Homo sapiens: one gene and its partners. The protein of the gene in region 3 interacts with the protein of the main gene of each other region in a pairwise test. Each region holds a gene or a part of one and is shown on either strand. Other genes may lie near its edges.

Region 1 (5,327 bases), on a different chromosome or scaffold from region 3:
GTCTCCCTGTGCCTCGGTTTCTGAGTCTATGACGCAAAGGTACTAACATCCACTTGGTGGGGTTGTTATGGGGAATACATGCCAAGCATGCAAGGAAGGTGCTCTCCAAGGTTAGCTATGCTGAGATGGTTTAAAAAGCTCTGGTGGTAAGGAGAGCTTAGTAAGTGTCAGCTGTTGACAGTATCATTATACCCAGTGTCACCCCCATGGACACTGTGTGACTTTGAGCAAGTGACTTTACCCTTGGAGCCCCCGTTTCCTCACCTGTGAAATGGGGAGGATAATTGTATGTACCTTGTAGGGTTCTGAGAACTAGAAAGACATGAACACCCTGGCACTGTAGTACAATTGAGCATAGAGCTAGGTGTTGAGGAAATGCCTGTCATGGTGTTTGAGGCACAGAGCCCTGATTTAAAGCCTGGTTCTGCCTCCTAGCTGTCTGACCTTGAGAAACTCCTATCTCCTCTCTGGGCCTCAGTTTCCTCATCTGTAAGTTGGGGGTGATAATATTAATAGTTCCACCTCCATGAGCTCTTGACATAATTAAATGAACTATTGAATGTAAGGTTCTTAGCAAGATGCCTGGACATAATCAGTGCTCTATGTGTGGTCCTTATTAAGATGTACTTATTAAGTTCTCCTCTCTGCTGGGCAAGGTGGCTCACGCCTATAATCTCAGCACTTTGGGAGGCCAAGGCAGGTGGATCACTTGAGGTCAGGAGTTCGAGACCAGCCTGGCTAACATGGCGAAACCTTGTCTCTACTAAAAATACAAAAAAAAATTAGCCAGGCATCGTGATGCATGCCTATAATCCCAGCTACTCAGGAGGCTGAGGCCGGAGAATCACTTGAACCCAGGAGGTGGAGGTTGCAGTTGAGCCGAGATCACGCCATCGCACTCCAGCCTGGGTGACAGAGCAAGACTCGGTCTCAAAAAAAAAAAAAAAAAAGGCCAGGCGCAGTGGCTCACACCTGTAATCCCAGCACTTTGGGAGGCCGAGGTGGGCAGATCACCTGAGGTCAGGAGTTTGAGGCCAGCCTGGCCAACATGGTGAAACCCCATCTCTACTAAAGATACAAAAAATTATCTGGGTGTGGTAGCATGGGCCTGTAATCCCAGCTACTCAGGAGGCTGAGGCAGGAGAATCGCTTGAACCCGGGAGGTGGAGGTTGCAGTGAGCTGAGATCATGCCATTGCACTCCAGCCTGGGTGACAGGGTGAGACTCCATCTCAAAAAAAAAAAAAAAATAGTTCTCCTCTCCAGGCCTCAGTTTCCTCATTTATAAAATGGGAGCAATGATGTCTGAGACCGTGTTCAGCTCTCATTGTCCTGCAATTCACTCTCACTTTCACTTTGGCCCTGTGTTCCTGGAGCCACATCCCCATCTTCTCATCTGATTGTGCCTGGCCACCTCTGGAGGCCACCTGTCTCCCCCACCCACTCAGCAAGCCTGAGGGGCCAGAGGTGCTGCCATGCTGTCCTCAGCGTCACCTGGGGATGAGCTTTTAGAACGTGCTTTGAAAAGGGTCAAATATGATTGAACAACAATAGCTATTTTTTGGAGCTGCTATCATGTCTGGGGCCTGTGGACTTATTTCTGAACTCTTGGAAATTGGTATTATTATCCTATTATAAAAGATAAAGAGGCTTTGAGTGGTTAAACCATTTGCTTAAGGAGATGCTGGAAGTGACAAAGATGGAATCTGAATTCAAATAGTAGTAGTAATAGCAAACAACTGTAATAACAGGAGCTAATATTTGCCAGGGGGCAATATTACTCTTTTAAGTATTACCTCATTAAACAATCCCAGTGACCCATGGGGTGGATGTTATGATTCCCATTCTATAGGTGGAGGAGCAAGACCGAGACAGATGGAATGACTTGCCCAGTCACCAAGGCAGGAGGTGACAAAGCTGGCCTTGAACCTGAGCCTGCCTGGGGCCAGTGCCCAAGCCAGCTGTTTGACAGTCCTTCCCTGCACCCCACAACCCTACAAGCATCAAAGGTCACCCAGCAGCCTCTCCCAGCCAGCCCCAAGTGCATCTTCTCACCCTTCCAGGCTGGAGCTATCTGACCCTGAAACAGGCTGCTGAAGGCAGCCTTGGGAATCCTGACTTAGCTCCCGAAGAGGGTCGCATGGGTTCTCTTAGAAAAGGGATTCTTACCGGGAGGTTCCATGGACTTCCTATGACTGGATGCAAACTTGTGAATATGTGTGTGTGCATTCCAAAGGTGACAAACCACAGCTTGAGAAGTTTCTGATTCTGTGGAATGGGAGAACACGAGGGATGTCCCCAAAGTTTCTAGGTCTCCGCAATCTGCCTGTCCCTGCCTCTGTTGGACTTTAGCACTATCTTCCAGGAGGACTCTGAGAGAAGAAAAGCAATAGGCCAAGGCAAGTTAAAACTGTGCCGCCTGCCTCTAGCTGGACTGACTGCAAAGATGCATTTATTCCAGCTTGTGTCAGTATTGCCAGAAGATTCTCAGGCCCCGCCAGAGGGGAGGGATGAGCCACAAATCCTTCCAGGCACTGATTTATGTAGCATTCATGCGGAATTTATTATACAAAGAATTTTATTCAATTAAACTTGAAATGCATCTGGATTCTTAAAGGTTCAGTAGTGATCACTGGGACAGGGCGATCATAAAACTGAATGGGCTGTCGGAAGGTGTCGAGGCAGCAGCAAGGGTGACATTGCCACTGACGGGGGCTTCCGAACTGGGGACGTTTGTCATTGGGATGTGTTACAAGTTCGGGCTGTGGAAATTACTCGATGAAAAACGCACATTAACGATAGCCATGAAATATTAGTTAAGGGAAACTAGGTTGAGAAATGAGACAGCAGGATCTATCAGAGCCTGGCATTGTTCGCCACAGCCCAGGTAGTGATTAAAACGACTGTCAAGCGGCAGTGGGTGGGAGCTGAGGAGCACGGGGCTGTGAGTGACGAGGCCGCGTCCGGGGCTCACATCTTGGCACTGACTCCCCAGGACAACTTGGTTCCCCACCCAATGCCTCCTTCCAGGGCTGCTATGGGGTTCAAATGAGATAATGTCTGTGGAACACTTGGCTCAGGGCACTGCACATAGCAAGCCCTTCCACAGTGCGGGCTGGTGTCACTGTGACTGTGGGCTTCTCTCTGACACAAGAGCCAACTGCCAGCTTGTCTCTGGAAATGACACTAAACACCCCATTCCAGGGAGCCTGACCTGGAGGCGGAGGAGGCATTTTCATGGGTGCAAAATGTAAGGAAGTGCCCACAAACTCAGGGATCGAGTAGTATTTGTGTGCAATATTTTCCAAAATCAAATTATGAAAAAAATCTACGATAAGCAAGGGATCACGACTTTAAATAAAAACAGGCTGCTGTTTGTTTCAAAACCCCGTGTTCCCGTGCAATGGGACTGATTGTTTCTGAGAGTTGCCAGTGGTGTGCAAACACTGGGGCAGCGGGGGCTTCGCAGTCACATTTCCTGACTGTAGGGCTTTCATTAACTTTTCCCACCTGGTTCAAAATATGGGAGGACATTTGCTCAGTGTACAGAGGGGTACACATCTTTTCTTTTGCCTCGGGCTCTTGATAGAGCTTTTGAAAGGCACTGCAGAAGAGCAAATGTTTTAAACACCCCATCCTTCCAGCCCCCAAAGCAAGCTTTCTCCATTTTTCCCAGGTTGGTAGCACAGGAGAGAAACACCTGCTGAGTGGTGGCATCTGCCCTGCACCCAGGTGGTTTCTCAGAGAAGTGTTTGCTGGTGAACCGGGAGACAGATACAGAGGCGGGGGTCTGAGAACGCGACTGTTAACATCCAGGCTGTGACACCCGGTCCTGGAAGGACAGGACTTGGCAACAGGTGAACGGCCTTGTTTCAAAGATTGTCACTTTAGGATGTTGTATTTACTCAAAAAGCTTTCCTTATCCTTTGGAGGCTGTGCTTTCCCATGGCTAGGCATGCAGGGCTGCTGTGTTATTTTATATATATATATATATTCCAGGAAGATTTTGAGATTTTGAGGTGTAGACAGAATTGAGTGATTCGCTGCAAGCTCTTTGAACATACTCCCTGACCGAGCCTTAGTGATTGCGTTTTCAGGGTTTTTTTTTTTTTTTTTTTTTTTTTGTGACGGAGTCTCACTCTATCAGCCAGGCTGGAGTGTCGTGTCACGATCTTGGCTCACTGCAGCCTCTGCCTCGTAGGTTCAAGTGATTCTCCTGCCTCAGCCTCCTGAATAGCTGGGATTACAGGCACCCGCCACCATGCCCAGCTAATTTTTTTTTTTTTTTTTTTTTTTTAGCAGAAATGGGGTTTTACCATGTTGACCAGGCTGGTCTCAAACTCCTGACCTCAGGTGATCTGCCTGCCTCGGCCTCCCAAAGTCCGTTTTCAGCTCTGTTTTGCAAACACTGAGCACCGACTCCGTACCAGACCTGGTAGTGACGATGGGGGCAGGGAGGCACGGAACAAAGCCACCTCCTGGAAGGCATTCACACACTCCTGGTCATCTGCACCTCACCCACCCTGCCCAAGGCTCAAGAGGGCCATCACAGCCTGTCAGCAATGAAAGGACCCAGAAGACACAAGTGAATATACCTGGCCCTCCTGCAAACTTTGCAGGCCAGGTGGTAAGAATGAAGGCAAAAATATGCACGTGACTAAGAAGGTAATGTTTGCTGACTTGCCAGCAAGAAAGATGGCCGGAAAGACCAGCTGTCCCGAGCCTAGCGCGGTGGCCCATGCTAAGCAGCCACTCAGTCAATATGTGATGGCTGAATGGAGTTCGCCAGGCATTTCAGCCCTGAAACTGGACAAGAGCCTGCCCTTCCAAAGTCATTTCCTGCAATTAGCAGCCTGCAGTCTTTAGGTTCTTGGGGCTGCCTCTTCTGCCCTTCATAAATATTGCCTTTCCCAAGGACACTGCTGGCACTGGCAGTGTCGTTTCATAGCAGGAGGGAGCAGCAGTGACAACTGAAATAAATACAGCCGTGGCACCGATCTCAGAGGCATAAGCCAGCCAAGTGCAACATCGGAGAAATCAGTCTGGTGGATGTCAGCCTTGCTGGAAACTGACAACCTCATTTTCTCAAGCTGAAGATGCTGCACCGCAGACCCTTGACTCAGTCCAACCAGACAGGGAATGTTCACCTTCAAGTGGTAGTGTTGTTCTCATCAGCATCTCCATCCCTTTCAGAGGGGGTCCTCTAAGCTGCACCCCCATCACACACACTTCAATCTAAGCCAGGAGTTTCTGAGCCTCGCCTGTCAATCTGCAGCTATCCTTCCCCCACACTTTGGCGGTGATGGGTGGCTCAGAGGTGACTAAACT
Region 2 (9,037 bases), on a different chromosome or scaffold from region 3:
AGGTGCCAGGGGCTGTGTTGATTTGCTCTGTTGAAGAAGCCACATCTGGAAGCCTCGCTGCAATTGTGCCATCAGCTGACCTCTACCACTTCAAAGTTCCATTAGTCCCAGTGAACTAAAGGAACCAGTTCCATCACAGCTTTCCCCACTGTCATCTCCAGCCTTGTAAAGGACAGCCACCACAGAGTTCATCAAGAAATATGCTGCTCCTGGGCCAGACGTGGTGGCTCATGCCTGTAATCCCAGCACTTTGGGAGGCCGAGGCAGGCAGATCACAAGGTCAGGAGTTCAAGACCAGCCTGGCCAATATGTTGAAACCCTGCCTCTACTAAAAATACAAAAAAAAATTAGCCAGGCATGGTGGCACATGCCTGTTATCCCAGCTACTCGGCAGGCTGAGATAGGAGAATTGCTTGAACCTGGGAGGCAGAGGTTGCAGTGAGCCGAGATTGCGCCACTGCACTCCAGCCTGGGTGACAGAGTGAGACTCCGTCTCAAAGAAAAAAAAAAAGAGAAAGAAATATGCTGCTCCCCTCGCTCCCCTCACCAAGCTATTACTTCATAGCTTGATGAAAAAGGTATCTCCTGGAACTTCCTGGGGTGATGGCTAGACGGTGGTTTAGTAGATTGCACATAACAGAAACAAACACACAATTCCCTGAACTTTTAGAAATCCTTTTTCTAATGGAACAGAAATTAAAAAAAGAAAAAAAAAAGAATGTGTAAACAAAAACTCAGCTGTACGTAAGAAAACCCAACTCCCCCTAAGAAGGAGAAAGAGCTGGAGTCCTTTAAAAATTAACTGCCTGTTTTTCTGTGGCTAGTGAGCCTTATCTCTCCTTCTTTCCCAGGCATTGTGAAGACCCTGTTTCTCTAGCTGTGCAGCTGCAAGGTCACTAGACAGATAAACTCAAGTCATAAAACATGTTTTCCTTGAAAAGTAAGAAACGATGTAATGCACTTCTCAATTAATTGAATAACTATCTTTGTTTCTTGCTTCTGTAATATGCTTCCCCCTGCACAGATCTCCCCCAACCCCATGAAATGCTTAAAAGGTAACTTAACTCTTTGTTCAGGGCTCAGTCCTTTGGATGTTAATCCGACTGGGCCAGTACACCTAAAATAACAAATATCCTCCTCTACCCCATCGGTCTCTCTGATTCCTTATCAATCCTGCTACACTACAGTATACCAGAGAAGTTCCAGCATTTTGCAAAGGTAGAACTTTGGTTGGCTCTACCTAAATCAGGCTTTGATTAGCTAACTTAACAGACCATTAACATAATTTCTGGCCAAAGCATTAAATCCACAATCCCAGGTGAGTATGGCCATATCAGTAAGTTCGGCCCAGCCAACTCTCGATCTAACAACCTTAGAATCCACCCTCACACAATGCTTCTGAGATTCCTGGCAATGTAGATTAGTAATTTCTTGTAACTGTTCTGGTTTATAAACTATCTCCTCTTGGAGTGGACCTTGTACCTCTGTCTGGGCTGTCCTGAAATACAAATCTCATTGTGAGCTAAAGGCAATGAGAAATAGTAGAGGGGGAATCCTGAGGAGAATCAGCTTAAGTGTGTGTGGCAACTGTGCCAGTGCAGTCACTGAAAGGCTTTTATGCAGAAAAGGGCCGCTTCCCTCAAAAGGGAGAGTAAGGGTTCCCTACACCAACAAGGCACTTTGGAAGTTCAAGATTCTTAGCCTTGTGTATGTTTGCCCAAATGTCCTAATCCCAGGCCTCAGAGTTCTACTTCTTCCCCACTAGTGCCCTTATCTTAGTGCAAAAGACCTGGCAGAGTTAAGCATTTGGTAGTACTGTAGGCATTGTAACCCTGTGACCCTTGCAATGGAACCCAGGGTTGCCCTCAACCCATGCTGTGACTATGAGATAAAGGACCACTTCAGAGCTGCCAGGGAGGTCTTCTGATTTTCTGCACAGGTTTTTAATTTTTTTTTTTTTTACTATTTTATTGAGGTATGGTTGATGTACAATAAACTACACATATTTAAATTGTACAATGTACAGTTTTGACATGTCTATATACCTGTAAATCCATCACTACAATAAAAAATAAATCTATCCATCACCCTCTGACGTTTCCTTGTACTCCTTTGGAATCCCTCTCTTTTTCCTCTTTCCTATCTCCAGACAACTACTGATCTGATTTGTGTCACTTCAGATTTGTGTCTTCTAGAATTGTATGTGAATGGAATCATACAGTATGTATTCTTTTTTGATAGATTTATTTCATTCGGCATTATTTTGAGGTTCGTCCATGTCATTCTGTCTATCAGTAGTTCATTCTGTTGTACTGCTGCGTAGTATTCCTTTGTGTAGATATCCTACCACTTGCTTATCCATTCACCTGCTGATGCAAATTTGTGCTGTTTCTGGTTTTTCGCAATTAAAATGACAAATAAACCAGCTATGAACATTCACATACAATCTTTCTGTGGACATGTTTTTATTTCTCTTGGGTAAGCATGTAGGGGTGGAATGACTAGGTAGAATATTTGGTGTGTTTACTTGTTTAAAAAAAAACTTGTCAAACCGTTTTCTGAAGTACACATTCTAATTTGCATTTGCTCCATATCCTTGCCAACAATTGGCATGACAGACTATTTCAGTCATTCTAGTGGGTGTGTAGGGGTATCTCATTATCATTTTAGTTAGCACTTCTCTAATGATTAATCATAGTCACTGGTTGAGTTATGCTAATTTGCTAGGTATGTATCTTCACTGATGGAGTGTTTATTCAAATTTTTTGCCCACTTTAAAATGTGATTGTTTGAGAGGTTTTTTTTTTGTTTTTTTTTTTTTTACATATTCTTGATTCAAGAACTTTGTCAGATATATATTTTGCAAATGTTTTATCCCGGTCTATGGCTTTTAATTTTGATAAAGTAAAATTTAAAATTGTTTCTTTTATAGTTCCTGACTTCTATGTCCTCTTTAAAAAATCTTGGCCAGAACAAAAGGCACTAAGATTTTCTCCTTCAATTACTTTTAGATGCTTTATGGTTTTTGCTCTTATATTTAGATCTATAATCTCTTTTCAGTTAATTTTACACATGCTGTAAGAGAACACTCAAGTTTCATTTTTCTGCATTTGAAAATCCAATTTGTTGAAAAGACTATTTTTTCCCAATTAAGTTCCCTTGGCACCTCTGTTGAAAATTAATTAACAATATACATGGGGGTTTATTTATTTATTTTTTTGAGACGGAGTCTCGCTCTGTCGCCCAGGCTGGATAGTGCGAGGATAGCAGTGGCTGGGGGGAAAGGCTGACTGATTCCAAGGAATGAGTCATCTTGCTCACCTGATTATTAAGATTCTTCTCTGTTGAGATTGTTCTTTGGTGAGCATTCACATACGACACAAGCATCTTCTCACTTGGTGCCCATCTGGAGAAGTCTGCACATACCTCTTCCCCAGACCACTTGTCACCAATTTTCTAACCATGTTCTTTCCAAATCCCTGACCATCCAGTCAAACCATCCATCAATCACCATCCATCTATAGATCTATACTTCTGGCCATCTTTTCTTTCAGGCACAATATACAACCAGGTATGCTACTTGAGGTTCTGTCCCAGTAGGATTTCCCTTCCCCTCTGTACTGCAAGTGAAGCTGTAATGTATATGGAACTTCCTGTGAGTCCCACCTTTTACTTGACCCCCTTAGGCCTGTTAGGACTTGAGTTTGACCAATGGAATGCAAAATAAATGTTGCTGTGACTTCCAAGATAAGGCCTTAAAAAGCCTTGTAACTTCCACTTTCTGTCTTTGATACTTTTTTTTGTGTTTGTTTCGAGATGGAGTCTCGCTCTGTCACCCAGGCTGGAGTGCAGTGGTGCGATCTCTGCTCACTGCAAGCTCCGCCTCCTGGGTTCACGCCATTCTCCTGCCTCAGCCTCCCAAGTAGCTGGGACTACAGGCGCCTGCCACCAAGCCCGGCTAATTTTTTCTTTTCTTTTTTTTTTTTTTTGGATTTTTAACTAGAGACGGGGTTTCACCATGTTAGCGAGGATGGTCTCAATCTCCCGATCTCGTGATCTGCCTGCCTCAGCCTCCCAAAGTGCTGGGATTACAGGCGTGAGCCACCGCGCCCGGCCACATGGGGGTTTATTTCACAATTCCATATTCTGTTCCATTGACCTATATTTCTGTCTATATGCCAATACCACAATGTCATGATTACAGTAGCTTTATAAGTCTTGAAATCAAGTAGTATAGTTCTCCAATGTTGGGATTCGATCAGGCTGCTGGGAAAAATATTAGTTATGATGGCCACAAAACCTTTTTGGAAGGCCTGAGGGTTTTCACATGACCTCGGTAACAGACCGGGCCGAAGGCGGCCTGGTCCCATTAACTTTAGTTAAAAAGATTAAAGTAGTAAACAACGGGATGTGGCGAAGTTTTACCTAGTTAGCTTGTTTACTCATGCGGTCTTAAGACAAGCCTTTGATGTGTGCTTTTTACTCGGGAAGTCCACAATGTCAGTTAGCCTCTAATGGCGTTCACTCAAACTTTTGTTAACTAATCTTAATGAATAAATATGAGTCTCCCTAGCTGATTGGGGCCAGCTGCAGTGACAAGCCTCTCTTGGTGTGTAGGCGGTTGGACACTCAGCAGGACTGGCAAAACAGAATATCTGTGTGTCAGTGTGCGTTTTATTCATCTGTCGTTTGGGTCAGGGTCTGCGGGCAGACCCCCTGCAGCTAATGCCCTCTTGTGAGGAGCAATACCTCATTTCAAATTTGTTTTTTTCCCAAAATACTACGTATTTCCTTAGTAAGTGTTTCATCAACTTACATTTGCCTCATCCACTCTATTTTTCTAAGTTTTCTTTTCTTTTCCAAATCTTGCCTTCTCTTCAGTTTAGAGAAATGGAATTCACTTTCCTTTTTGTCTTCCACCACCATACCATCAGTAGATAGCCAAAACTATTGAGAAACAAAAATGAACATACAAAATGTTGAAATATCGATTGTGAGGTTATCTGGCAATAGACAAGAACTTCTATGTGTTCAGTAGGAATATGGCAAGATAGAAACAGAGGAGAGGATAGATACTTTCAAGGTATTTCTAATTAAGTGATGGGTGAGTAGTACACTCAGCCTTCAGAAGCACATGCTACAGATAGATCAACAAAGTACTAGTGTACTGAGGTGCTTAATAAGTGTTGAATGGATAAATAAACAGATATATTCTAAGAGTGTCTCATCTTCTCACATGAATAGACCTGACCTACTCTTAGTGCTGATGGCTTTTGATGACTCTAATCCTCAAGGAGTACAGCCACCCTTCAGGAATGCAGAAGTCCCTGTACCATGTCCTAAGACTTTGTGGTTTCCCCGTTATGACATTTTCTCCTAACTGGTTGTCTATTTTCCCCCTTCCAACTCATTCCCCCTGCTCTATCACACATACCCTAGATAATAAGGAAAGTTTGTTAATCCTTCCAAACACTATATATTTGCCCTTATTAAACCACTTAACATGTTTACCACACTGTACTGAAATATCCTGTTTACTTGACTGTCTCCCTAATTGAAAGGCAAACTACTTAAGTCTATCCCCTGCATCCAGAACAATGTCTGGTATATGGTTGATATGCAATAGTTTATTATTAAACAAATGAATGAATTCATACCTTGATCATTTTCACTTTTCATACTTGGTATATTCTTTTGTGTTTGTTTTTGTTGTTGTTGTTAGTTTGTTTTTTGAGACAGAGTCTCACTCTGTCGCCCAGGCTGAAGTGCAGTGGTGCCATCTCAGCTCAAAGTGCTGGGATTACAGGCATGAGCCACAGAGCCTGGTCATACTTAGTGTTAATATATTCAACATACCAAATTCTACAATCCGTATACTGGGTATATAATCTGCTGAGTACCAGAGAGTATCTAAAGATGGTCTAGATTCAAAGCTGATAATTAAAAGTAGAAATAAATGTAGTAAGAAAAAGATAAATTGCTGTGCCTTGAAGTATTATTAGCAACCCCTGAGTAGCTAACTTAAGCAAAATTTATCAATTAAATTACTAGGATTTATTATTTTAAAAAATAATTTTAAAATTAATTTTTGAAAAGACAAATGGGTTTCTAAATACGTAAGGTTAAAAATTAACATTTCTCTTTTCTTACTGTATCAGAAACTGGCCTCCAGCCATTGTTTTCTATACGATGATACCAGCCACTATGATCCTCTTCCTGAAGATGATCATTTTTATTATGAGATGTATGCTTTGCTGGAAGTTTTGCATAATTTCTAGGGCTGTTAGCACAGAGATCTTCAATAGGTCTGTGAGTAAAAATCTTATAGTATATATCAGGTGGAAATTTAACCTGTAGAAGGAAAAGTTCAAAGAGCCATTGTAATGTAACTACAAAAATGTTTTACATTTTGAAAAATTACATTGTTTCAATTTCATAAAAATGTGCTTTATAACTACTAAATAAGCATTCATCCATACTTACTCCACCTAATCTGAATCGCACATGAATGCCAGCAGCAGCATCTAGAAGCTCTGCCTATAAGAAAATATATTATTCTTATATATTATTCTTCAGGATTCTGTATGTATCAATTCACTATTTCTCACTCTATTATTTTAAATAATTGCTAAATATTGACTATTTAGGAAATCAGTCAGGTGAACCAACCTCAAATAATCAATTTTAAATTAGAAAAATTGTTAAAAAAATTTTTTTGAGATGGGATTTCACTCTGTTGCCCAGGCTGGAGTGCGGTGGCATGATCTCAGCTCACTGCAGCCTTAACCTCCTGGGCTCAAGCGATGCTCCCATCTCAGCCTCCCAGATAGCTGAGACTACAGGTGTGCACCACCATGCCTGGCTAATTTTGTATTTTTTTTTTTTTTTGTAGAGACAAGAGTCTTCCTATGTTGCCAAGCTGGTCTCGAATTCTTGGCCTCAAGTGATACTCCTGTCTTGGCCTCCCAAAGTGCTAAGATTACAGGCATGAGCCACTGTGCTCAGCCATTAAAAAAAATTTTTTTTTTGTAATTAGAAAATATTTTATGAGGCCGGGCATGGTGGCTCACGCCTGTAATCCCAGAACTTTGGGAGGCCGAGGTGGGTGGATAATGAGGTCAGGAGATCGAGACCACGGTGAAACCCCGTCTCTACTAAAAATACAAAAAATTAGCTAGGCATGGTGGCAGGCACCTGTAGTCTCAGCTACTCAGGAGGCTGAGGCAGGAGAATGGCACGAACCCAGGAGGCAGAGTTTGCAGTGAGCCAAGATCGCCCCACTGCACTCCAGCCTGGGCGACAGAGCAAGACTCTGTCTCAAAAAAAAAAAAAAAAAAAAAGAAAAGAAAAGAAAATATTTTATGAGCTAAGGACTTAATTTCTTTTTATTATTATTATTATTATTATTATTATTATTTTATTATTACACTTTAAGTTTTAGGGTACATGTGCACAATGTGCAGGTTAGTTACATAGGTATACATGTGCCATGCTGGTGCGCTGCACCCACTAAAAGGACTTAATTTCTTATGGACATCTATGGTAAATGAAAAAATGATACCAAACTGTTTCCTTTTTATGCAATATATAAACATAAAAGCCAAGTAATTTTTTAGTCATAAAACTTAACTTTTAAATAACTCCTCAAATATTACATATAAAATATTATCTTGCAGGTAAATTCAAAGAAAAAATTATGACTGATCAACCTAAATTCAACAGTAGATGACCTTTCCTAATTAGCTATTGTTAAATTTAAAAATCCATGTTTAAAATTCTGGGCCGGGCGTGGTGGCTCACACCTGTAATCCCAACACTTTGGGAAGCCGAGGAGGGTGGATTGTTTGAGGTCAGGAGTTCCAAAGCCAGCCTGGCCAACATGGTGAAACCCTGTCTCTACTAAAAATACAAAAATTAGCTGGGTGTGGTGTCGGATGCCTGTAATTCCAGCTACTCTGGAGGCTGAGGCAGGAGAATCGCTTGAACCAGGGAGGTGGAGGCTTCAGTGAGCAGAGATTGCACCACTGCACTCCAGCCTGGGCAACAGAGACTCTGTCTCAATAAATAAAATAAAATAAAATAAAATAAAATAAAATAAAATAAAATAAAATAAAATAAAATGATATAAGAATTGTATATAATAGGTTTTCTAGATTTTAGTTTGGTATGCAGCACCAAATGGAAAGTAGAGAAAAAAATTCTTGGTCCTTTATCGGAAGACAGTTCAATCTTGTCTCCTGATCATATTAGGTTAGATCAGAAAATAGATGTTATTCAACCTATAGAGTCTTAAAGACAACATTAATTTTGCAGAATAATCTTCTCTTGACTAAAACTTTTATGAATTCAAATATGAAGTGTGAGATCCTGTTATAAAACATATTTTCTATATTTGAGCCATAATAATATATACACATTTTTTTCACTAAGGTGGACAGATCTTAAGTGTACAGCTCCATGAATTTTTACATATGTATTGTACTCTCTTGTGCTTGGCTTATTTTGCTCAACATGAATCTGTGATAAATCTCTAAGATTCGTGTATGTAGTTGTAGATAGCAGCAGTTAGTTCTTTTTCACTGCTATCTAACATTCCATCATATAATAGAATATATGACAATTTATATTATTGTTGGACATTTGATATGTCTCTAGTTTTGGGTTAAAATGAATAAAACTACTCATTCTGTGAACATTCATTTTTATGTCTTCTGTGGGTTATAACAATCATTTCTCTTTGTTACATACCCAGGAATGAAATATGAGAGGTCATGAGGTATATATGGTATGTAAGTATACAGATGGCCCCGACTTAAAGTGGTTCAACTTACAATTTTGACTACAATGGTGTGAAAGTGATATGCATTCAGTAGAAATCATACTTCACATTTTGAATTTTGATCTTTTCCCAGGCTAGCAATATGTGGTATGATGCTCTTGTCGTGATGCTGGGCAGTGGCAGCAAGCCACAGCTTCCAGTCAGCCACATGATCATGAGGGTAAACAACTGATACTCTACAGCAGGGGTCCCCAACCC
Region 3 (9,037 bases):
AATGGTAGTACTGCCCTGCCAGGGACCACACACTAAGAGACAAAAGTCTCAACATTTTCTAACCAGATACCGTTGGTACATCATTACAGCCCATGCTTCTTATATTATCTGAATCATTAACCACAAAATCACTCTCCCCTAGGCCAGGCACTCAACTCTTAAACTGAGTTCCATATATATTACATTTAGCTCACACTAAGTGTCAGAACCTATGTTTGGCATTTGAAAAATAAAAAAATACACCTGGACTTGACCCACGATTTGAAAACTTTCTATGTCAAGCTGCATCTTCTTATAATAAATAAAGAGAAGGGGAAATGGTCATAAACAACAAGGGCTTGTGCTGTTTATAAACTCCAAATTTTTTTAAAAGGTGAAAACAAATCGCTGATAGAAAACAGTTTTAAAATTGCCAAACAGGCTTTTGAATAAAGAGCAACACTTGAATGCAAAGGCTTGTATCTACTGACAAGGAGGGAAGTTAGATGGGACTCAAGTGCCTGTCACTTGTTATCAAAGTCCCAGATGGAAATAAGACAGTCATGGAAAAAGGAACAGGTTACTCATCATAATGTTCTTGAACACTTTCCAGCGTGGCCAGACATGCAAGACAGAAAAGTCTGGTGCAGTCGAGCTGTGAAACAAGATAGAGAACTACAGGTAGGTAATGGTAACTAGAGGCAAAATCTCTAAGTGGCAAGGCAAAGAGCTTTTGCCCCTGTGCAAAAAAACACCTCAGGAGCAAGGGAAGTGGTAAGCTTTCACACCCAGTTGAGAGAAATTTTGTAAAAATGCCAAAAATGGTGAGAACAGTACACAGCCTAAGCAGTCCAGTAACAAGGGACCGTTTGGTTGAGAAGGAACTAAAACTAACACTTAGATGTACTATTTTCTTTCACCTTGCTTGAAGTGGCATTTTCTCTCCTGTTATTATCATCATCATGTTAATGAGTGCATATCATATAAGATGCCTTGGGTGCCTTTATCTCTCAGACACAACCTCCGCACAATCTTAAAATCTGCTGTTAAGACCAAAAACATCAGAAATTTGAAAATCTTTTCTAAGTAAAGAATCTGAATAGAAAAGCATAGATTTTGCTTGTTGAATTTTAAGTGTAAGAGTGATAGGCAGCAAAGGTGAGGTCATGAGGATGTCCTTATGAGAAGAGACACAAGCGAAAACACATAGGAAGAACCTGCATGTCAGAGGCAGAGAATGGAGTGATATATCCACAAGCCAAGGAAAGACAAGGATTGCTGCCAATACCAGAAGCTAAGAGAAAGGCATGAGCCACATTCTCCCTTAAGCCTTCAGAGAGAACACGGCACTGTCAACACCCTGACTTCTGACTTCTGGCCTGCAGAATGGTGACAGAATAAATTTGTTGTTTTATACCATCTAGTTTGTAATAATTTGATACAGCAGTTACAGAAAACTAATGAAGGCATATCTCATTTTATTGTGCTTCACACATTGTGTTTTTTATAAACTGAAGGTTTGTGGCAACCCTATGTGAAGTTAGTCTGTTAGTGTCATTTTTCCAATAGCATGTGCTCACTCCATATCTCTGTGTCACATATTGGATATTCTTGCAATAATTCAAACTATGTCACTATTATTATATCTTTTATGGTGGTCTGTGATCAGCAATCTTTGATGTTACTGTATTTGTTTTGGGGCACCATGAATCATGTCCAAATAAAACGGTAAACTTAACGATACATGGTGTGTGAATGTTCTGACTGCTTCACTGCACCAGCCGTTCCCATCTCTCTCCCTCTCCTTGGGCCTCACTATTCCCTGAGACACAACAATAATGAAAATTAAGCCAATTAATAACCCTACAATGGCCTTCAAGTGTTCGAGTGAAAGAAAGAGTCACCCATCTCTCACTTTAAATCAAAAGCTGGAAATGATTAAGCTTAGTGAGAAAGGCATGTCAAAGGTCAAGACAGGTCAGAAGCTAGTAGCTCAGAAGCTAGGCCTCTGGAGCCAAACAGCCAAGTTGTGAATGCAAAAGAGAAGTTCTTGAAGGAAATTAAAAGTGCTAGTCCAAAATGGTACATTATCAGTGGTTGCTGAAGCTCGGAGCTGGTCTATTACACTATTTTGTTTATTTTGAATGTGTTTAAAATTTTCTATAATTGAGTAAAACATCTGTATAAAAAGACAAAAGAAAAAAGTGATACTCAGTGAACACACCAATGATAAGAAAGTGAAACAGCCTTACGGCTGAGACAGAGAAAGTTTTAGCGGTCTGGATAGAAGATCAAACCAGTCACATTTCCTTAAATCAAAGTCTAATCCAGGGCAAGGCACTAACTCCCTTCAGCTCTGTGAAGGCTGAGAGTGGTGAGGAAGCTGCAGAAGAAAAAATGGAGTTAACAGAGGTTGGTCCATGAAGTCCAAGGAAATATGTCATCTCTATCATATAAAAATGCAAGTTGAAGCAGCAATTGCTGAAGTAGAAGCTACAGCAAGTTATCCAGAAGATCTAGCTAAGATCATTGATAAAGGTGGCTACACTAAACAACAGATTTCCAATATGGATAAAACAGCCTTCTATTTGAAAAAGATGCCATCTAGGACTTTTATAGCTAGAGAGAGGTCAATGCCTGGCTTCAAAGCTTCAAGAACAGGCTCTGGTTAAGGGCTGACGCAGCTGGTGAACCCAATGCTCATTTAGCATCCCCTGAAAATCCTAGGGCCCTTAAGAATTATGCTAAATCTACTCTGCCTGTGTGCTATAAGTGGAAAAACAAAACCTGGGCAACAGCACATCAGTTTACAGCATGGTTTTTTGAGTATTTTAAGCCCACTGTTGAGACCGACTGCTCAGAAAAAGATTTCTTTCAAAATATGACTACTAATTGACAATGTACCTAGTCACCAACAGCTCTGATGGAAATATACAAGATGATTAATGTTGTTTTCATGCCTACTGACACAACATCCATTCTACAGCCCACGGATCAAGGAATAATCCACTTTCAAGTCTTCTTATCTAAGAATACGAAATACATTTCTTAAATCTATAGCTGTCATAAACAGTGATCACTCTGATAGATCTGGGTAAAGTAAACTGAAAACCTTCTGAAAAGGATTCACCATTCTAGATGCCATTAAAAACGATTGTCATTCATGGGAGGAAGTCAAAATATCAATGTCAATAGGAGTTTGGAAGAAGTTGATTCCAACCCTCATGGACGACTTTGAGGGAGTCAAGATTTCAGTGAAGGAAGTCACTACAAATGTGGTGGAAACAGCAAGAGAACTAGAATTAAAAGTAAGCCTGAAGATGTAACTGAATTGCTACAATCCCATGATAAAACTTCAATGGATGAGGAGTCGCTTTTTATAAATGAGCAAAGAAAATGCGTCTTAAGACGGAATCTACTCCTGATGAAAATGCTGTGAACATGGCTAAAATGACAACATAGGATTTAGAATATTCCATAAACTTTTAAGCAGCAGCAGGGTTTGAGAGGATTGACTCCAATTGTACAAGATTTTCTACTTTGGGTAAAATGCTATCAAACAGCATCATATGCTACAGAGAAATTTTTCATGAAAGAAAGAGTCAATTGATGTGGCAAGCTTTATGGTTGTCTACTTTTAAGAAAACGACACAGCCACCAGCCTTCAGTGACCGTCACCGTAATCATTTAGCAGCCATCAACATTGAGGTAAGACCCTCCACCAGCAAAAATATTATGAACTGCTGAAGGTTCAGATGATCGTTAGCATTTTTTGGCAATAAAATATTTTTTAATTATGTATATTTTTTAGACATAATGCTATTGCACACTGTATAGACTACAGTATAGTGTAACTCTAACTCCCATATGCACTTGGAAACCAAAAGATTCATCTGACTCGCTTTATTGCAAGATTCACTTTATTGCAGTGGTCTAGACTAGAACCTGCAATATCTCTGAATAATGCCTGTATAGAGCTAGGGCCCACAGCATTGTTTCCTGGACCACAATAGGCAGGGTATGGTTCTAGGGTCCCCCAAATAGCAGGATTTTTCTTACTGTAACTGTGTCTTGACCAGAGCAGTGGCTGTATGGCCCTAGACCGGTGGACTTCTGATCACAGAAGAGGCAGAAACTCCCTTGGGGGCCTGGTACTGGGACATTCTGCTGGAAGCTCAAACTCCCTCACAACCATTAAATACTATTAAATGTTCAGTAACAAATTCCTTTCCACTTAAAAAAAGTGATTAGAGGAGTAAACGGGAGAACTATGTAACTAAAGACAATCTTTACTGACAGCTGATTTTTTGTTGTTGTTGTTGTTGTTGCATTTTTAGTAAAGATGGGGTTTTGTCATGTTTCCAAGGCTGGTCTCAAACTCCTGGGCTCAAGCAGTCTGCTCAGCCTCGGCCTCCAAAGCGCTGGGATTACAGGTGTGAGCCACAGTGCCCAGCCAACAGCTGATATTGTAAATACTCAAAGCCATAAAAGTGAAGGTGAAAACAATATGTCATTCAACAATAAAAAATATTTCTTAACAGTAAATACATTATTAAAACTTTATTTTAAATGCATTTTGAAAATGGAAAAAAATGTCAGTTTTCACTGAATACCACACCTACCACCAGACTACTCTAAACATATTCTAACAACAAAGACGGTGATGAGAACAAAGGAAGTCAATTTGTAGGTTGCCATGAAAAATAAGAAATAATTCGTTCCATAAACCAATCCTCCCCCCAGAAAAATCTTCTTATATAAGACCTTTCAATTTACATGTATTTATTGACTAACAAACCACACCTAGAAATAAACTGTTTGGAATAAAGATATACTATTTGCATAAAACAAATGACCTATTCTAGGTGTCTCTTTTTTTAATTTTTTTTTTATTTTTTTTAGAGACAGGGTCTCACTCTGTCACCAGGTGGGAGTGCGGTGGCATCATCACAGCTCACTGCAGCCTCGAAATCCTAGACTCAAGCCATCCTCCAGGCCCAAGCAATCCTCCTGCCTTAGCCTCCCAAGTAGCTGGGATTACAGGTGCGTGCCACCAAGCCCAACTAATTTTTTTTAAATTTTTTGTAGTGACAGGGTCTCACTATATTGATCAGGCTGGTCTTGAACTCCAGGTCTCAAGCAATCTTCCCACCTTGGCCTCCCAAAGTGCTGAGACTACAAGTATGAGCCACTGTGCCGGTATCATATCACTTTACTATATGGTCCAGCAGTTAGATATAAAGGCAATACAAGATTAGGAATTCATTACATTTTAGAAGTATAACAATTTTTCATAAACACATCTATTCAACTTTTCCAACCATAATATAAGGACATATGTCTTTGTTATGATTATAACCATAATAAAATGTATAGTAATTCACCTAGGTAAATATAAGGATATAGGGGAAATATTTCAACAATTTAAAAAAACAATTTTAAGCATGCTAGGAAGAACATTTTTAATTTTGCCAATTTTTTGAATCTGTATTTAAAGATCTTTTTGCAACTCACATTATTTGTAGTCCATAATATAACCCCCCAAGCCTCTTGTGCCTTTTTCTGCCTGAGAAACTATGGCTTGCTGGCTCTCCCCACACTCCAAAGAAAGTCATAAAAACTAACTCAAATGTAGGAACCATTAAATTTTGAATATGGAAATCACAGGGCAAAGGAAAAGGAGAATTCAAGCAGAGGAAGTGGAAATGGCAGAAGTGGGAAGCAGCCCATTAAGACAAAACTGGGCCAAGGCAGAGTGGGTGACAGGGCCTGTCATCAGAACAAACTGACAACAGGAGATGTGTTTCCCACCCCTGAAGGTCCTAAGAATAGAGAAGTAAGTGAAATGAAACTAACACTGGGCCTGCTACCATACATTTACAAAGGTATTTTCATTTACTCCTCAAGGCAACTTTATGAGTTGCGACAACTACAGTCTGAATAAAATGAGCAACTCAACCAAGGTCATAAAGTAGGCAATGACAACCCTGGAGTTTTCTGCCTAGTCTTTTCCACATCATGGTAAACACAGATAATGATAATATATGTGCAGCAGGGTCAGATAAAGAGAAGAGACTGCTTGTAGCTGGTGGCAACTAGCCAGGAATTCTGATTGTCCCAGGTCCTACCTGGGCTTCCCCGAGGGCTAAGGGGTCAAAAGTCCAGCACACACAAAACCCACTCCTGACTAGAGCTGAGAAAGTGTACTGTGTAATTTTTTCACAAAGCTGTTGCATTTTCCATTCTGCTCTATGCTACTCAGTAGCTACACCCAGGTAAGTCTACAGCTAATTCTTTTCAGAGCAAAGGTCAGAAGTACCTCTACCCCAGGCCAAACATACCTTGACTGTAGGCCCTCTGCTAAAGCACAGGCTCTTTCCAATATTTTTTACTGGGGCGGGGGAGAGTCTTTTTTGAAAGACTAAGTTAATGTTTCCTAAAAAGAAAAAAATTTGCCCAACCCCTTGCTTATGTCAAAAATTCCCTCTAAAGTAGACAAAGGTAGTCATACCAGTAGGCTTAAAATAAAAACTACTAGACAAAGAAACATATGAGTAAGTTTTGGTATGTTTCTTTGTCTAGTAGTTTTCATTTAGTAAAGACAAATGACTGACATTAGATTCTATGTCGCTTTAGTCAGAAGCAGGGAGCCACAGACAGGCATTCATTCAATGTCACAGGATAGGAGTGGGATCCTCCAGAAGCAAAGAATGGTGAAGAAACCTGAAAACATGGATAAACCTAAAAGAGGTTCTTATGCTGACAAACTCTGAAATGAAACACAAAATTTGGGAATGGACAGCTGGGTATTATTCTGAGGGAACTGTGGAAGATCAACAAATTGTCACAAGAGTCTAAGCACAAAAATAATTATAAAACGCTGTTGTGGAAAATTCCGAATCAACCCAAACATCAATGGCATAGCACCACATTTAGACCTCTGGTATTATTTTCTAGAGTGGGGGAAAGCTACCAACCTATTTGTATAAATAAAGCTTTATTTGAACACACCTATGCCCACTTGGTCAGATACTGTATTTGGCTACAATGGCAGCAGATGCAATCACAGGGCTCACAAAGCCAGAAATATTTACCATGTGATCCTTCAGAGAAAAAAATTGTGAATCACTATTCTATAAAAAAGCAGACTGGATTGAAAAAGTAGCCCTTACCCACTACCAACAGAAGACTACTAATAAGATTTACAAAAAGGCCTATTTCCATTATGTAACAGAAAACACGTATTTCTCAATTTTTATAGACCACTAAAATCAGTTTTATTCATTTATATATTGTTCCGCTTAACACTTTGATAGCTATTACAACAAAACCACTCATTGTATAACCTCATTACCTAAATAGTATGGCAGGGCAGTTATTTTGACAAAGGTTAAAAAAGAAGTTATCCTGCTCAAAAATATTAAGGAATGCTTCATGATCATCTGTCCTTCTCATTCCCACTGCCCACTGAAAAGCATGAAATATACTCTGTAAGTGTTTTCTTCAGAATAAAAAAAATTTTGTGAAAATACACAACACCTAGGAATAATCAAACTATTAATTACCAAAGGAGAATTCAGCAGTTTAGAAGTTTTATAACTCTGAGATTGAATTGTATCAATTTAAAAATTCTGAACTGCCATTATATTATACAAATGCATATATTTGATTACAATTATGTAACCAAATGTTATTCATCCATATTCCCTACAAAAATGGGTGGAGGGGGGAGAATTAAATTGAAAAAGTCTCAAAAGGGTAAAGAAATGCGTCTTAAAACATCTTGCTATATATTTACATAAATCCTGATGAAGTGCTGATAAAACAATTCGGAGCAAACAGTAATCATACATGGCATTTCCAAGACACCCTTAAGTCGTACATTAAGTTTAATATGTTTTATAGACGATGCACTGAAATACCTACCCTCGTAGTTTTCCAACAAAAATTCGAAGGGGTAAACACTTAAATGTGAATGAAACCGGGAATGAGGACAGAGTGCTGTTTTGTGCAGCTGCAGCTGCAGCTACACTGTGTATTTTTTAAATACTACACTGTGCATTTTTAAAATACCAAAGCCTATTTAAAAAAAAAAAAAAATCAAGGGAAACAAAACCTGAAAGAAATTTTGGAATTACCTACTTTTTTTTTCCCCAAAAGTGCGTAATCACTAACACTTAACTGGGCCCTGCTCTCAGGCCCAGTTCTCAGGTACCCTGAATGGTGGCGACATTTGTAATACTACAGAGGTACATTCTTAAAACATCAGATAGTTCCTAGGAAAATAGTGTTTAGTTCTGGAAACACTGTAAAAGTCTCTAATGATATCTCAGACCACATATTTAAGTGAAAAAAAGAAGTCTATATTTCAGTAAATGCGCAATAATTGAGGGGAAAAAAAAAGAATACTTAAATGTTTACAGTAAGTCAGAGCCCAAAACTATCAACTGCAAGCACCAGGAAAGATTTGGGGCATGAGGTCCTTATGAGATTAAGTACTTATTTACACAAACTGTAACTGCACTGGACTTCTGGTCATTACGATGCAATTTTTTTTTAAATTTATTAATCAGGTATGTTAGCTATAGAGGCATCAAATCTCCCCTCCTCTACTAGTACACTGCCATCATACCATATGTGCTTTCCTCATTCTTTGGGTAAGTGCTGTTTTACTGGGATGGAAATGAACTCGAAATTGTCCAGACAGGAAAATATGAAAGGGGGAAAGCAATGGTGGGTGCTACATGTATTATCTAAATAAATAAACCTAAATACTAGTTCAGACTATAAAATGAGTCTGTACGCTTAGAAATAAAGTTAGTCTTGTTAAATTGGTAAGATTTTTAACCATGGAAAGATTCCCAAGAAGTTGTGAAAACGCCTAACGATTTAGATTCTGACATTTAGTGGTTTTCATTTTCAGGTAATTTCAGAGTAAAACCCGCCTCAGTCACATGGACTATATTTAGTCTGCTGACCAACTTCGCTTCTAATCTACTATAAACTTTCAGTAGTAGTTAAGTTCTAGGTGCAGCTGAATCACGAAACGGGACACCTA
Region 4 (9,037 bases), on a different chromosome or scaffold from region 3:
TCTTGGGTATATACCTAGAAGTGGAATTGCTGGGTCATACGGTAGCTTTATGTTTAACATTTTGAGAAATTTCCAAGCTGTTTTCCCAAGTGACTGCACCATTCTACATTCCTACCAGCAGTGTATAAAGGTTTCAATTTCTCCACATTTTCAGCGATAGTTGTTATTGTCTGTCCTTTTGATTTTAGTCATCCTAGTGGGTATGAAGTGGTATCACACCATGGTTTTCATTTGTATTTCAGTAGTGACTAATGACATTGAGCATCTTTTCATGTGTTTATTGGCTATTTGTATATCTGCTTTGGAGAAATGTCTATTCAGATCATTTACCCATTTTTAATTGAATTATTTATTTTTATATTGTTGTAAGATAAATTTATATATTCTAGATACAAGTTTCCTATCAAATATGTGACTTGCAAATATTTTCTCTCATTTGTTGAATTCTCTTCATCCTTTCTTAATGGTGTTCTTTGAAGCACAAAAGTTTTTACTTTTGATGAAGTTCACTTTATTTTTTCTTTGGTTGCTTGTGATTTTGGTGTCATATCTAAGAATCCATTCCCGAGTCCAAAAAGATTTTTGCTCACGTCTTACTTTAAGAGTTTTGTAACAACTCAACAAGAAAAAAAAGATAACTCCATTAAAAAGTGGGCAAAGGTCATGAACAGACATTTTTTCAAAAGAAGGCATACAAATGGCTAACAAACACACGAAAAAAATGCTCAACATCACTAATCATCAGGTAAATGCAAATTGAAACCATAATGAGATACCACCTTACATACCGGTCAGAATGGCTATTACTAAAAAGTCAAAAAATAAGAGATGTAGGCAAGGATGTAGGGAAAAGGGAATGTTTATCACTGCTGGTGGGAATGTAAATTAGTACAACCTCTGTGGAAAACATTATGGAGATTTCTCAAAGAACTAAAAATAGAGCTACCAAACTACCATTTCATCCAGCAATCCCACCACGGAGTCTACCCAAAGGAAGTCATTATATCAAATAGATATCTACACTCTTATGTTTACCGCAGCACTATTTACAATAGCAAAGATATGGAATCACCGTAAGTGTTTTTCAATGGATGATTGGGTAAAGAAAATGTGTGGTGTATGTATATGTAAGTGTGTGTGTGTGTATATATGTGTGTGTGTGTATGTGTGTGTATATATACGTATATATGTATGTATGTGTGTGCATATATATATGTATATATATGTGTGTGTGTGTGTATATATATATATATGCATGCCATGGAATACTACTCAGCCATAAAAAAGAATGAAATCATGTCTTTTGCAGCAACATGGATGGAACAAGAAGCCATTATCCTAAGTGAAATTACTCAAAAAACAGAAAGTCAAATACCCCATGTTCTCACTTAAAAGTGGGAGCTAAATAATGTATACATATGGGCATCCAGAATACAATAATAGACACTGGAGACTCAGAAAGCTGGGAGGGTGGGAGGGGGGTGAGGTATGAGAAATTACCTAATGAGTACAATGTATGCTACTTGGGTAATGGTTACGCTAAAAGCCCAGACTTCATTATACATGTAACAAAATTACACTTATACCCCCTAAATATATATGTTTTTAAAGGCCAAAAAAAGTTTTGTACTTTTAGCTCTTACTTTTAGGCATTTGAACCATTTTGAGTTGCTGATTTTCACGTATGGTGTGAGGTAGGAGTACAAATTCATTTTTTGCATGTGGATATCCAGTTGTCTCAGCACTGTTTGTTGAAAAGATTGTTCTTTCCCCATTGAATCCTCTTAGCACCATTGTCAAAAATCAATTGACCATAAATGTTTATTTCTGGGCTCTCAATTCTATTCCAGTGATCTGTATGTCTTTCTTATGCCAGTACCAGTGTCTGGATTACTATAGCTTTTTTTTTTTTTTTTTGAGACGGAGTCTTACTCTTGTAGCCCAGGCTGGAGTGCAATGGCACAATCTCAGCTCACTGCAACCTCCGCCTCCCAGGTTCAAGTGACTCTCCTGCCTCAGCCTCCGGAGTAGCTGGGATTACAGGCACAAACCACCACATCTGGCTAATTTTTGTATTTTTGGTAGAGACGGGGTTTCACCATGTTGGCCAGGCTGGTCTGAACTCCTGACCTTGTGATCCGCCCGCCTTGGCCTCCCAAAGTGCTGGGATTACAGGCATAAGCCACCACGCCAGGCCTACTATAGCTTTTTTTAATAAAGTTTTGAAATTGGGAAGTATGAATTCTTCAACTTTGTTTCTCTTTTTCAAGATTATTTTGGCTATTCTGGGTCCCTTACATTTCCATATGAATTTTAGAATCAATGTGTCAGTGTCTCAAAAGAAGCCAAGTGGAATGTTGAGAGGGGTTGTGTTGAATCTGTAGATCAATTTGGGGAGTATTGCTATATTAACAATTAAATAATCTGATCCATGAACATGGGATGTCTTTCCATCTATTTAGATCTTTAATTTCTTTCACCAGTGTCTTGTAGTGTTCAGAGTATAAGTTTTACACTTCTTTCCTTAAATTTAACCTAGGTTTTTTATTCTTTTTGATGATATTATACATGGATTTTTGTTAATTTCATTTTTGGATTGTTTATTGCAAATGTTTAAAAATTGATTTTTGTATATTGGTCTTATATCCCAAAACTTTACTGAACTCATTAGCTCTAATAGGTTTTTAGTGGATATTTTAGGAATTTTTATTTACAAACCAGGTCATCTGCAAATATAGTTTTACTTGTTTCTTTCCAATGCCTTTTGTTTCATTTTCTTGCCTCCACTACAATGTCAAATAGAAATGCAAGAGTAGCCATCCTTGTCTTGTTCCTGATCTTAAGGGAGAAACATTCAGTGTTTCACCAGTAAGTCTTATATCAGCTGTGTCTTTTTCATAGATGCTCTTTCTCAGGTTGAGAAAACACACTCCTATTCCTAGTTTATTGATTTTTTTATTATTACAAAGTGGTGTTTAATTTTGTCAAATGCTTTCTCTGCATGTATTGAGATGATCTTGTGGTTTTTGTCCTTTATTTTATGATATGGCATATAATGTTAATTAAATGGCACATTATGTTAATTGATGTTAAGCCAACTTCGCATTCCTAGGATAAATCCCCTTGATCATGGTGTATAATGCTTTTTATATGCTGCTGAATTCAGTTTGCTGGTATTTTGTAGAGGAATCTTGCAACTATATTCATAAGAGATACTGATCTATAGTTTTCTTGTGATATCTTTGTCTGATTTAACTGTCAGGGTAATATTGGCCTCATAGAATGAGTTGGAAAGTGTTCCCTTCTCCTCCATTTTTTGGAAGAGTTCATGAAGAATTGGTATTAATTCTTTAAATATTTGGTAGAATTCATCAGTGAAGCTATCTGGGCATGAGGTTTTCTTTGTGCGTAGTTTTTTTGATTACTTATTCTGTCTCTTGTTATATGACTATTTAGATTTTCTATTCCTTCTTGAGTCATTTGTGGTAGTTCTAGGAATTTGCCCATTTCATCTACATTATCTAATTTGTTGACATATACTTGTTCAGAGTATTCCCTTAAAATTCTTTTTTTTTTTTTTTTTTCTTTACTGCTCCATTGCTCCTTATGGAGCAGGGCAAACCCATATGGAGTGCGTCCAGAAGAGCCATTTAAAATTCTTTTTCTTCTTTTATCTCTTGTTGGATATGCCAATCAAGGTTTATTATGAGTTCATAATAATAAATCTGCTGAAAGCTGATGCAGTGATGTTTACTTATATTTATTCATAGACAAACATTGTGTGCATAAAATTTTCTCTCATTCAGATATTTGGAAAAAATATAGAAAAGCAGTTGAAAATAATGAATACTCCCTCATCATTCCACTACCCAGAGATAATGACAACATTCTGATAATTTCCTTCAATGTATTTTTTGTATATTATAGATTTCTGATCATCCTAAATGTTAGTTTTTTGTAGCCTCACTTTCAGCACTAAAATGTTATGTAAACATTTCTCAAGTTGTTATAAATGCTTTGCAAACATCATTTTAGTCATTGCTAAGTATTTTATTTGGTGAATAGGCCATAATATGCTTAATTATTCTTCAAATATTGGACCTTTTAATACTAATATAAATAACACTTTGAAGAATTTCTTTGTGCAAAGCCTTTTCCTTATTTTGGATTATTTCTATATTCAGGTGATTAGATATGAAATTATCGTGTCAAGGGCTATAAATATTTTGAAAGCTCTTGATAGAAAATGATAGATATTATTTCCTGATTACTAACCATATTCCAAAGAGTGTTCAACATAATCTACATATGTTTTATCTAATCCTTGTAATAAACCTGAATAAAGGGTTATTATTCCTGTTTGTATAGTGGAAGCAGCTCATGCTCAGTGTGGTACTTGGTAAGTTTGTTTTTCGTTTTTTTGTTTTTTTTTTTTGAGATGGAATCTCACTCTGTCGCCTGGGCTGGAGCGCAGTGGCGTGATCTCGGCTCACTGCACCCTTCACCTCCCGGGTTCAAGTGATTCTCCTGCCTCAGCCTCCTGAGTAGCTGGGATTACAGGCGCCCACCACTATGCCCAGCTAATTTTTTGTATTTTTAGTAGAGGCGGGGCTTCACCATGTTGGCCAGGCTGGTCTTGAACTCCTGACCTTATGGTTCGCCCGCCTCGGCCTCCCAAAGTGCTGGGATTATAGGCGTGAGCCACCGTGCCCAGCCTACTTGGTAAGTTTATGCAGCTTACAGCTGGCAGAGTTGGGATTTGAATTCAAGGAGTTTTGATGACAAAGTATTTTTTGCTGTCACCCATTACACCATTTTATGCCACCTCTGAATGTTGCTGCTTCAGAAGCTAGCTTTAATTAAATTTACTTATATACAGTACCTTGTATTTGCATAGTGCTTTTCAAGTTGGCCAGGCCCTGTAACATACGTTTGATCCTCACAGCCTTTTGAAGGGTTGTTCTCAGTTTGCAGAAAAGGAAATGAGGCTTTGAAAGGCAAAGTGATTGCCTCAAGGGAACACAGCAAGTCACAGAGCCAAGGCTCGTGCTTGATTCCTGTTTCCACTGGTCTGACTAGTGTTAAGGGTTTTTTGTCCTGCTAGGTCGTTCCACCTGACCACAGTACTCTGCCTCTGGAGTATCACGGCAGTTTGAGAAAGCGTAACCTACATATAAAATCGAGGCTATTCCCTTTCTTGTGCTCTACCCAGCTTCCATGTAGAGAAGTAGCATCGGGCCAGGCGCGGTGACTCACGCCTGTAATCCCAACACTTTGAGAGGCGGGTGAATCACTTGAGCCCAGGAGTTTGAGGTTGCAGTGAGCTATGATTATGCCACTGCACTCCAGCCAGGACCACCACTGAGTGAGACCCTGACTCTTAAAAGAAGAAAAAGACCAGGCACAGTGGCTCACACCTGTAATCCCAGCACTTTGAGAGGCTGAGGTGGGTGGATCACTTGAGGTCAGGAGTTCAAGACCAGCCTGGTCAACATGGTGAGACACTGTCTCTACTAAAAATAGAAAAATTAGCTGGGCGTGACGGCACATGCCTGTAATCCCAGTTACTTGGGAGGCTGAGGCAGGAGAATTGCCTGAACCTGGGAGGCAGACAGGTTGCAGTGAGCCAAGATCATGCCACTGCACTCCAGCCTGGGCAACAGAGTGAGACTCCATCTCAAAAAAAAAAGTAACATCAATTTTATATTGTCATTGTTATTTTATTTCTTTTGTGATATGTAGCAGGTAAGAGAGGACTAATAATAGCTATCATTTATTGAGTGCCTGCTACTCTCATTATTTCTTACCAAAACTCTTAAAGCTTTGATTAGTCTCCCTCGTTTTATAAATGAGGAAAGTGAGACTTAACTGCCCCAAGTTACACACTCATGGGTGGCAGAGCCTGAATTGGAACCAGATCTGGCAGATTCCAAAGTTCATGGCCCTTCTGATATGCTACCCTGACTTGGAGAATTGGAATTTATCCACATAACAGAAATTAAACATTGCAATTTCATTCTCCTGAATTTCACTTGACACTTAAAATTTTATGTTAATGGTATTTCAATTAATAATCTATTGCCTTTTTGTTCCCATGGAGCACTTTGGAAACACTGATATATTTTATTTCTTCCCTTGAGACCACTTAGAAATGTATTTATTCAATTTCTGTAAGTGCTAAGAGGCCGACAAAGACAATCCGTGCTTTTTTGGCTTTGTGGTTTGATGCGTAAGCTGTGACAAATAGAAGTTTCTCTAAAGGAAATTGTTCCTTTCAAAAGTACTCATTCTTTATTTTATATGAAAAAAACTTAAAAATACTGAATAGCAAACTAAATATTTCTTTAATTCTTGGTAAAACATCTAGTTAATTTAGCTGTTTAAAAATCAAACAATCGCCAGGCGCGGTGGCTCACGCCTGTAATCCCAGCACTTTGGGAGGCCGAGGCGGGTGAATCACGAGGTCAGGAGATTGAGACCATCCTGGCTAACACGGTGCAACCCCATCTTTACTAAAAATACAAAAAATTAGCAGGGCGTGGTGGCGGGCGCCTGTAGTCCCAGCTCCTCGGGAGGCTGAGGAAGGTGAATGGCGTGAACCCAGGAGGCGGAGCTTGCAGTGAGCCAAGATCACACCACTGCACTACAGCCTGGGCGAGAGAGCGAGACACCATCTCAAAAAAAAAAAAAAAAAAAAAAATCGAACAATCAAGCCATTCACAGCTGCTTGAGAGCCCCCCTCCCGGCTCTCCATCCCCATCTCCTTACTCCCAATTTGAAGTCCTTTACTGTGATGTATATTTCAGTTTGAGACCTTCATGGAAAAATAACAAATGAAAATCTTTCATCTTTGGTGTTCCCTAAAGAATTTTCTCCAAGTTTAGAGGGCCTCTTGCCATTCTCCTTGCTATTGTTTGTCAGAGGGTTCTAGGTTATCATAGCCATCAAGCAGTCTTTACTGCCACCGTAGGGTATATTGAAAATCCCTGTGAACTCGGACCGTCCTCATTTTCCTCCTCAATGAACTGCAGACAGAGAAGATGCTCTTTCAAGTCCATTGTCCCTCTAAGACTATCCGTATGCTCTGTAGCTGTGGGAGGGGTAGGTAGGGGAGGGCATTGATTTTCCTTCTGCCTCTCCTGCTCATTCCGCTAGCTATTGCTCATCAGCATCTTGACATGCTCGGTGACTTTCCTCTTTTTTTCCTTTTTCCTTTTTTTTTTTTTTGGTTTGTATATATATATATATTTTTTTCTCAAGCCATTTTGTTTTGCTTTTGTTTTCCTCCCCAAATATTTTTGAAAATTGCAAACCTACAGAGAAGATGAAAGAATAGTACATAAACACCCGTTTGAAATAATTTGAAAATAAGCTGTAGACATTATGGAATTAACCTCTACGTACTTCAGCATGCATCTACTAAAAGAGGGATATTCTCTTATATAACTACAATACTAGATCACCCTGAAGAAATTTAACATTGATAGTGTAACATTATCTAACATGTAGTCCATATTCAGAATTTCCCAGTTGTCCAAAATTGCCCTTTGTAACTGTTCTTTCCTTCCCTTTAAAATAAGTCTTCTCTGGCCCTCTCATCCCCTCCAGTTCCTCTCGTCTCTCTCCTCCCCTTCAAGCTCGCTCCTTAGGGGTGCATTTGTACCCGCTGTCTCCTACCTCCTCTTTGATCCCAGCCCAGGGAAGATGATCTGACAGGTTCTTGAATGACCTCGAAGTCCAATGGAGCATTTTCAGTGCTGATTTTGCTCACTTCCTGGCAGTCTTTGGCACTCCTGCCCACTCCCTTCTTACTACTCATTGCCCTTGGCTTCAGGGGCAACACATTCTCCTGGTTTTTCTTTTAGGTCTCTGCATGAACTATTTATGTGGACTCTACTTTCTCCTGGCTTTTAAATGTTGGGGCTCCTCTGGGTTCCCCCTTGGCTCTCTGGTTTTGTCACTCTAACACTCTCCTTGGATGCTTTTTCTAGTCCATGGCTTTGACATCAGTGTGTCAAGACTCCAAATCTTTATTTTCAGCCCACATCATATGCTCTAATCCCTGTTTTATTGGGAATCATTTTAAATAAGTACTTTTCTTTGTAAAAGGAGACCATTTTCTTCATCTGAAATCATGATTCCTCTCACTACCAATTCTTAGGTAATAGTCACCGTTTGATATGATAATGTGTTGGCCTGGAGGTTTGTATAGGATTGGTACTACAAACACATTTAATGCCTGTATGAAACAGACAAAACAAAACAAACCCATCCCAACAACCTTTTTATTCTTTACACCAATTAAATACATCTTCATCTTTTTATTTGCTGTGTGATTAATTTACCTTTGCTTTAAAAATTTCAAGTATTTTGAGACTCTGATAGGGGCTATTTAGATATCCATTTTAGAATCGTGAACCTTTAGAAGGCAGAAAGGCCAGGTGTAGTAGCCATGTCTGTAATCCCAGCACTTTGGGAGGCTGAGGCGGGAGGATCACTTGAGGCTAGGAGTTTGAAACCAGCCTGGGCAACATAGCAATACCTCGTCTCTACCAAAGGAAAAAAAAAATAGCTGGACATGGTGGCTCGCACCTGTAGTCCCAGCTACATAGGAGGCTGAGGCAGAGGATCACTTGAGCCCAGGAGGATCACTTGAGCCCAGGAGGTGGAGGCTGCAGTGAACCATGATCGTACCACTGCACTCCAGCCCGGGCAACAGAGCAAGACATTGTCTCAAAAAAGAAAAAACAAAAACACACACACAACACAACACAAAACCCAAAGAGAGCAGAACCACCTCTTTGTTTAAATGATTTTTACTGGCTTCCAGCTTTACTAGGAAATTCACAAAGAAGCCAGCTTTCCAGTTGGGTCATGTTAATTGTTAGGAAATCTTGTTACAGAGAGACCTATTGCAACTAAGTGCAAGAAAGGACAATCCCTCAGCCCCAATTGCCAGTTATTTCCCATATTCAGAACGCTTTTCTTATATGATTATGGCTTTATATTTCATTAGCTTTTAGCAGCTGCAAAAGAC

What was found.
Region 1: the proteins of NEK7 (region 3) and MMAB interact in binary tests that used the Homo sapiens proteins (3 or more experiments, as listed by UniProt).
Region 2: the proteins of NEK7 (region 3) and C11orf65 interact in binary tests that used the Homo sapiens proteins (3 or more experiments, as listed by UniProt).
Region 4: the proteins of NEK7 (region 3) and PPEF1 interact in binary tests that used the Homo sapiens proteins (3 or more experiments, as listed by UniProt).

The regions. Positions count from the first base shown.
Region 1 is NC_000012.12:109,551,178-109,556,504, forward strand, and holds the end of MMAB (corrinoid adenosyltransferase MMAB precursor), read right to left. Parts: 3' UTR 2,538-5,327; downstream 1-2,537. UniProt on the Homo sapiens protein: Converts cob(I)alamin to adenosylcobalamin (adenosylcob(III)alamin), a coenzyme for methylmalonyl-CoA mutase, therefore participates in the final step of the vitamin B12 conversion.
Region 2 is NC_000011.10:108,400,613-108,409,649, forward strand, and holds part of C11orf65 (protein MFI), read right to left. Parts: intron 6,538-9,037; coding exon 6,484-6,537; intron 6,352-6,483; coding exon 6,151-6,351; intron 4,948-6,150; coding exon 4,817-4,947; intron 1-4,816. UniProt on the Homo sapiens protein: Acts as an inhibitor of mitochondrial fission. Interacts with MFF and prevents DNM1L recruitment to mitochondria, promoting a more fused mitochondrial network.
Region 3 is NC_000001.11:198,159,356-198,168,392, reverse strand, and holds part of NEK7 (serine/threonine-protein kinase Nek7), read right to left. Parts: intron 1-9,037. UniProt on the Homo sapiens protein: Protein kinase which plays an important role in mitotic cell cycle progression. Required for microtubule nucleation activity of the centrosome, robust mitotic spindle formation and cytokinesis.
Region 4 is NC_000023.11:18,709,855-18,718,891, forward strand, and holds part of PPEF1 (serine/threonine-protein phosphatase with EF-hands 1), read left to right. Parts: intron 1-9,037. UniProt on the Homo sapiens protein: May have a role in the recovery or adaptation response of photoreceptors. May have a role in development.